Homo sapiens: one gene and its partner. The protein of the gene in region 1 purifies or fractionates together with the protein of each later gene. This does not show direct contact. Each region holds a gene or a part of one and is shown in the gene's direction. Other genes may lie near its edges.

The links.
Region 2: the proteins of NEK11 (region 1) and FAR1 purify together in Homo sapiens (affinity purification with mass spectrometry; one large-scale study listed by BioGRID and IntAct). This does not show direct contact.

Annotation. Positions count from the first base shown.
Region 1 is NC_000003.12:131,033,052-131,036,879, forward strand, and holds part of NEK11 (serine/threonine-protein kinase Nek11), read left to right. Parts: intron 1-2,621; exon of another isoform or gene 2,622-2,761; intron 2,762-3,828. UniProt on the Homo sapiens protein: Protein kinase which plays an important role in the G2/M checkpoint response to DNA damage. Controls degradation of CDC25A by directly phosphorylating it on residues whose phosphorylation is required for BTRC-mediated polyubiquitination and degradation.
Region 2 is NC_000011.10:13,674,975-13,678,802, forward strand, and holds part of FAR1 (fatty acyl-CoA reductase 1), read left to right. Parts: intron 1-3,828. UniProt on the Homo sapiens protein: Catalyzes the reduction of saturated and unsaturated C16 or C18 fatty acyl-CoA to fatty alcohols. It plays an essential role in the production of ether lipids/plasmalogens which synthesis requires fatty alcohols.

The DNA of each region.
Region 1 (3,828 bases):
AATTCTGTTGTCATCTTTTATATCTCTGTGGCTGTCCAAAATAAATTGGTTCTCAGAATGTGAACCTTTTAGCTAAGATATCAATTCATCAGTGATTGTTATGTTTAATGCATATATGAGGCAGGAAACTAAACTCTTTTTTTTTTGTGTTGATACTGAACCATTAGTTTGTGAGCAAAGCACATTATTAGCACTACTCATTGTCCAAGCAATTTGACTAGATAAGGTTTTAAATTATGCTTTACATACTAGACCACAAACATAAGGAATTGGTTAATGTTAGAGGTGGCTAGAAGATGAATACTTTATACAGACTTCTATAATGGTATGAATGCTATTCCTTCAACACATCAGAATAGATATGACTTCCCTTTTTGTTTTGCAGATACACCCTTAACTTTTTGAGCTCATAAGGAAGGTATCAGACTATCCCTTGGTATCAGTGTTAAAGGAATGACAATAAGTTTGTAGGACTTATGACTAGTTTCTATGAAATACAGATTCATTATATACATTTCTATATTTAATCAAAGAACTTGACAAAATGGAACAGCTGTATGTACATAGTACTTAACTTTTCCGTCAAAGTATTGCAATTTATCATTATGCCACTTGGGGGCATCACTTTACCATTGACATTTTGCATACAGGGTGACCTTTAATTACAATGTAAATACCATATTCCTTTACATTTTTATTCACTTTCTGAATTAGCTGTGAGATTAAAATAAAACCTACAGTACAGACATTACACTTGCTTGATGCATGTTTGGAGAGTTTTCTTCCTGGCATAAATATTGGGCATCCCTTTTTTCATTATCACAGTAGAATAAAATTAAACTGTTAAAATGTATGGTGAATGAGATAGAGGTTTTTCCTTTATTATGCATCATGAAATTCATAAAACAATATTTGAGAATATTTTCTTTCATAATTATAGACACTCTAGTCTAATTATGTTGTCATAGTCCTAAAAAGATTGTGCTAGTTCTTATTCATTTTATTTTATAGTATTGTTAAATTGTCAAAGTATCTTTTCAAAAAATCAAACCCAAAAGATTTGATCAGCCCAGAAATTACTTTGGCCCTTAACATTAGCATAGTGCATGTAATTTAATAGAAAAGAGATATTAAGGAAATAGGTTTACCCTAAAATACATGATTAAACTTGTAATTAATCATGGCCACAGCTACAGTGAATTTCAACATTCATCTTATCAGCATAGAATGTTGGTTATAATGATTTTTAAAAAATTTATCACATTTAAGATATAGTGATCTTACTATGCAGAGTTGATTTTATGCTGTTGTCTGTTTTAGTCTGTCAACTATGAAGTATTTAATACAATTTAAATTTTTTTTTTTTGAGTCGGAGTCTCGATTTGTCACCCAGGCTGGAGTGCAGTGGCGCGATCTTGGCTCACTGCAAGCTCCGCCTCCCGGCTTCACGCCATTCTCCTGCCTCAGCCTCCCGAGTAGCTGGGACTACAGGCGCCCGCCACCACACCCGGCTAATTTTTTGTATTTTTAGTAGAGATGGGGTTTCACCGTGGTCTCGATCTCCTGACCTTGTGATCCACTTGCCTGGGCCTCCCAAAGTGCTGGGATTACAGGCGTGAGCCACCGCGCCCGGCCACAATTTAAATATTAGACCTTTGCTTTGGACTCAGCACGAGAGAGGAAACTGAAGCAGTAGGAGATAAGGCCTAGCCTTCAGGTGCTTCCAGTCCGGAAGACTATATCAACACACATAAAACAACTAGTATACAGTACAAGACAATGCTTAAGTATCTGTGTGGCAGGTTGCACTCGGAGATGTTGGAGTGGCTACTCCCTTTCCAACTCAATATTATCTTACTTGTTTCTGTGTACTATCTAACTTATGTGTATTTTCCCCTTGGTCCTATCCAAGTGCGTATCCAAATATTTTACCCCTTAACTGTGATCGTACACCTTGGTCTTTGTCTAAATATGGGAAAAATGGTAACAAGGAAATGCTTTATCTCTACAGAAGGCATTTTTTCCCCCTCTATCTCATATGTCTGCCTGAGATAAGGATCAGGAGTTAAATAGTAAAAGGCCTACAAGTCCTTAAAGAAATGGCCCTCAAGTCCAGGCTCTTGCCTCCTCAGAGAGCTCTTGGGTCTACATTAGAGTAGATTTTTAAAAGTCCTAGCAAGCTGATTTTCTACCCAGTTATGGAAACAAAATGGAAGATAGGGGGCCAAGAGTTGATGCTAGAATGAGTCATACTGACAACAGAGGGGAGTGGTCTTAGACCATAAGAGTAAGGGAGGTAGAAAGTAAGAAAAAGATAATTAAAAAACCCCAAAAGCCAAAAAAGTCTGGGTCCATTGTTGTAAAGCTCTCCATACTCCAGTTTCTACTTATAGAAATCTCAGACGTCCAGCCCTGTTCCAAAGTACTGTATTGAGACAGACTCACTAACTGGCATGGAGTCAAAAGGGCTCAGGGGTTCAGCCACCACCCTGGGGTCCAGGCCTCAGCTTTTCATATTCATACACCCAGAGATGGTCAGTCTTGGAGAGGAGCTTATATTAACTAAATCAAGACAAGATAGATCTATAAACCATGATTCCACTTCTTAATCTGGTTCCTAGGATGAACAGTACCTCCTCCTTTGTGCACCCTCCCACCATTTTCTGGTAGAAGTTCTGGAGAAGCTGTATATCTAATGAGAAGTGAAAATATAACCAAAATAAGCAGGTGGAATAATTGGGCAATTACTCGCTTAAACCAGGTAAAAGGTCTCTTCTAAGAACTTGACAAAATGGAACAGCTGTATGTACATTCTAAGTGGCTATTGTTGTGGGAGCCCTAAGACCCAGTGTTTATCTACTAAATAGCTCTGGATGCACCCCCATACAAATATTCATAGGGTACCTCCTTTCCCAATATTGAAAGTAATGTGTATACACTTTATAAAAAGTTCAGATGTGCATAAAGAAGCAGTAAAATAATCTATAATCCTGCCATCCAACCTGTGGTCTTTTCTGTATGCACTGACAAATATTCAGTCTTTTAACGAAACATGGCATTGGTCCTAGTCATTGCCTCTGAGAGGAGATAGGAAGAGAAGGAGACTTCACTTTTCACTGAACCCTTTCTGTGCATTTGGAATTTTGTATCATGTGCAAGACTGAAACAAAACAAAACCTATAAAATAAAGTGAAAAAACCCACATATTCATTCAACAAATACTGGTCACCGTTTACTGGTCATCTGGAGCTTGAGTCTGGTACAGTGATTCTTAACCTTGGCCAAACAGTGGAATCACAATATTTAGAAAGTACAGATGCTTGAGTCATACTCCAGTGAATTCTGTTTGGTCTGGGGTATGGCCAAGGATTTTTGAGAACTTCCAGGTGATTCATATGTGTCACTAGACTTGAAATATCTCAACTGGAGATAAAAACTCTACTTACATAATCATAAATAATTTTAGCTGCAATAACTTGTGAAAGAAAAATCTTGGTTCTTGTGAGGTACAATAAACTCATCTTTGCTTGCAGGATGGAAGGTTGGGTGAGGCAAGGCTTCCCTGAGAACTGTGAGCTGAAATCTGAAGAATTATTAAGAAGTAGCCAGTGGTTTTCACAATTTGTTGAGCATCAGAGTTGTCTGGAGAGCTTATTAAAACAGATTGCTTGGCTCCCCCCTACCCCAGAGGTTTCTGATTTAGCAGGTCTGGTAGGAGGGGCCTGACAATTTGCATTTCTAACAGCTGTTACTACATCTTAGAGGACTGCATTTTGAGGATCCTTGTACTAGGCAAAGGGATGGGAGAAGAGTTGCATTCAGTGTGAA
Region 2 (3,828 bases), on another chromosome or scaffold:
AGTTACTAACTTGTGGTCAGTCTTGCTTCATCCATACCTCCATCCACTTCCTTCTTTATTTTGAAGCAAATCCCTAGACTTTTTTTTTTTTTTTAACCAGTTGTTACCATGCAGTGTGATAAGTATAATAATAGACATGTTAATCCAAGTGAGGTGCAAATTTGTTCATATAAATATATTTTGAGACTTGAGCATTATACTGTTCTGGGCACGAGAAATTAGATATAGTAAGCTACTGTAGGGCAGGGATAATATAATTGAAGAGACTGTACATATGTGAAACAGAATGTAGCAACACTGGATCATGTGCCAAAATTGGTGGTAGAGACTCTTAAGTGGGAACTGACATTATTTTAGAATGAAAGTAGAACTTAAACAAGTGGCGATAGAGAGAAAGAACATTCAGGGATAAGGTGAGGGTAATCACATGGATAAAGCGTGCGGTTAGGAAATCTAATTTTGGCGCTATAGAATAAGTTATATCTAAATCTGTATCTCTCTATCTTTATCTTTTAGACTACTACAACATGTAATTGGCATACTGTAGATGTTATATCAGAACTTGAACAAAGCCGGTTGCTGTAGCAGAAATTAGGACACACTACTTTGTGAATATATCACTGTTCGTGGTTAATTTTTTGGCACGTTCTGTTAAAAAGCCTTCTAAATATCTTAATACCACATGTATTAATGGATCCATTCTTGTTAGAATGTTTGTGGGTTTGTGCCATCAGCTTTGGTGTGCAGTTGTGTGTGTGTGTTTAACTTAAATGTTAACTATTTGACAATTTTAAGATTATTTTGAAATATCTAGTTTAGATCATTCTTGTCTTACATGAAATTTTTTCCAGAAATGTTGGCATAATTCATGAGAAATCCTTGAATTTAGGGAATTGTTACCATTATAGCTTATTTTGAAGTATTCTGAGAATAAAATCTTAAAGTATATTCCCTAATGCAGAAATTGCTTGTCAAAGGTCATGAACTTCTCTGAGCATCTCCTCAAAGTGTTGTGCTATCTCATCAGAAAAATGTACGTTCAAATATCCTTGGGGGGTCTGTGGATTCTGTCTTAATAATTTATTCTTTAATGTGTAGGCAGAAAGCATACTGCTAAAATTCAACTCAATTATCTTTCTGTGTGTTCTGCTTGCCTTTTACAAACAAGTGTTTTTAATTATTAAGAGTGATAAAATGATAAAGCTTATTATTGCAAATGCCTAATTAAAAAATTAGACATTCTTAATTGAATTCTTGGGGAAAAACAAGCTGTAGCCAGTTTAATAAATAGGAATTATTTCACTAAAGATTTTGGAATAAGCATGTGGTACTTTATTTATGGCTCCTGTCCATCCTGGATTAACAGGAAGTAGAATATATGACATATGAATGAATAAATGCATAAATACCTTTTTTTCCCCCAGAAGTAAAAACTTTGACTTACTGTGTCCTTAGGCAGTTAAGATCTGTGGAGGAAAGGATCTGCTAAAGTATTTTGAGGTTCACATCTGTGTTGAAACAACCAGAAGTAATGCAGGAGCTTAGAAACTGTTTTTGGCTGACAAAGGATTGATTCTCAGTGGAGCCCTGAGATACAAGTGCTCATAGTTCACTTAGTTTGAGGAATGGCCCTAAATGAGTTTCTTAGAAATAGGTGGTTTTAAAAACTTGTGGATTGTAATTAAAATGTAATTATGATAATGATTATGAGCATAAGCAGAATTCTCAGGAGATAGGAACAGGTGAATTAGCTGGTAATGGGACATTTGACCCCACAGAGCTGTGCACAGACTGTTCGAAGTTCAGTGAATATTAGGTGAATTGCTTTAAAGTGATACCCTTGTGACCTGTTGGAGTTAATAATTTTTCAAGTACCTAATCTACTAGTAGGAAACAACTTATTCCAATACATAGTAGTAAAAATACAGACTGTGAAAGCCAGAAGAGATTTTAACAATCAGTGATCTGGCCTCTCCTTCAATAAATTTAAAGAGTGATCAGAGAGGTTGACTTGCCTAAGGTCTGTTGGTTATGGCAATCCCAACAGCGTTGTTTCTCATTACCTGATTTTTGGTAAGTCTATTGTGCTTATTTATTTTGTTTGTCTTTTCATTCTGGATCTCAGTATTTGGAGAAGGAAGTATATTAACTTTAGCATGGTAACTAGATTATTGGTAAATTGGCTAAGAATTCCCTGAAATGTTATACCATAATGTTTTTACTTTGCCATCATATACTCCTTCCATCTTTAACATAATAACCCATAGTTACAAGATTTATTAGGGTAGGCGTGTTTTAGGAGCTTAATTCCATTCCACAGTTGGAAACAGATATTAAGAATCCACAGTTCTTAAAACATTTTCCTCATGCTTTTTTATACCTTTCTAGGATGATCTTTGCCTAACAGCATTTAGTTGCAAGCTGTGTCTATGAACTTGGCAAAGTTTTAAAAATAAACTAGGAAAAGATTTTTGAGAAGAGAGTTTGTTATGGGATTTAGTCATTTAAATACATTCCTAAAAGCTGTTTTTTCCCCACTCAAAACTAGACACTGGAAGGATCATTGACATCCAGGTTCAAAGAAGTTACTGCTTACATGACTGATCCCGATTCTGAGTTCTTTTGCCACATTTGGTTCATGTGGAAAGGCTGGCTGGGGCTAAGACTTGCCCGTACATTAGCGACATCATAGCCAGAGTGAGGACCCTTAGAACAGTGCCTGTCAAGCTTTTTTAGTCCTAGCCTTTTGGCTGAGTCATTCTTTAGCTCAATAATTTCTACTTTCTAATGGAATAATAACACTTGTCAAGGTATAAGCATTTTTTGGGAAGAGCTATATGGATGGTTCCTAATTGAATCACAAAAAATATGCTTGTCATAAAGTCTAGACTAATTAGAAAACTGCAGGCCTCAAATCCTAGTGATGGAATTGTATCAATATATTCTCTACAGTTATAATAAAATAACCAAAAACTAAATTGATAACGATGAGCCAAACCTAATGGTAATTTAATTAAAAGGCAAGAATAATGACAATTGAAAACGAAGACCAACTAAAGACAACACAGTTTCACTGATGGCAAGTGCCCCTCTTGAAAGTTACGGACTTCTACGTTTTGAGTATGCATATGTGGTAGGAGCTTGCAGCATTGCCAGTTGCAGCAACTGGATATACTAGTGGAATACAAATTGAAGTTTTTGGTACATTCTAGTAAAGTCTTCATTTTTGCAACTCTTGGTAACTAGCTTAATAGTTTATTCATAAGTAGCTTTATGGATTAAAGGAAGGTCATGTTTTCTTTTTTTTTGAGACTGAGTCTCGCTGTGTCGCCCAGGAGGGAGTGCAGTGGTGCGATCTCCGCTCACTGCAAGCTCCGCCTCCTGGGTTCATGCCATTCTCCTGCCTCAGCCTCCTGAGTAGCTGGGACTACAGATGCCTGCCACCATGCCCAGCTAATTTTTTGTATTTTTAGTAGAGACGGGGTTTCACCGTGTTAGCCAGGACGGTCTCGATCTCCTGACCTTGTGATCCACCCGCCTCGGCCTCCCAAAGTGCTGGGGTTACAGGCATGGCCACGAAGGTCATGCTTTCTAAATCATTTATAGTCCATCAGGAGGCTTGGCCCTTTCTTGGAAAATCATTACTTTTGAAGGCTGGTTTAGTAATCCTTGAGCTTCTCATGAGCATTATTTCCCTAGCTGTGTTGGGACATTTATGAAGAGCAGGGCTTAGATAGAATTTAGTGGGTCTTTTTTTTGTTTTTTACCTCAGGACATTTGTAATCTTTGATATGCTAATATACATCTTTAATCTGGTTGGGATAAAGC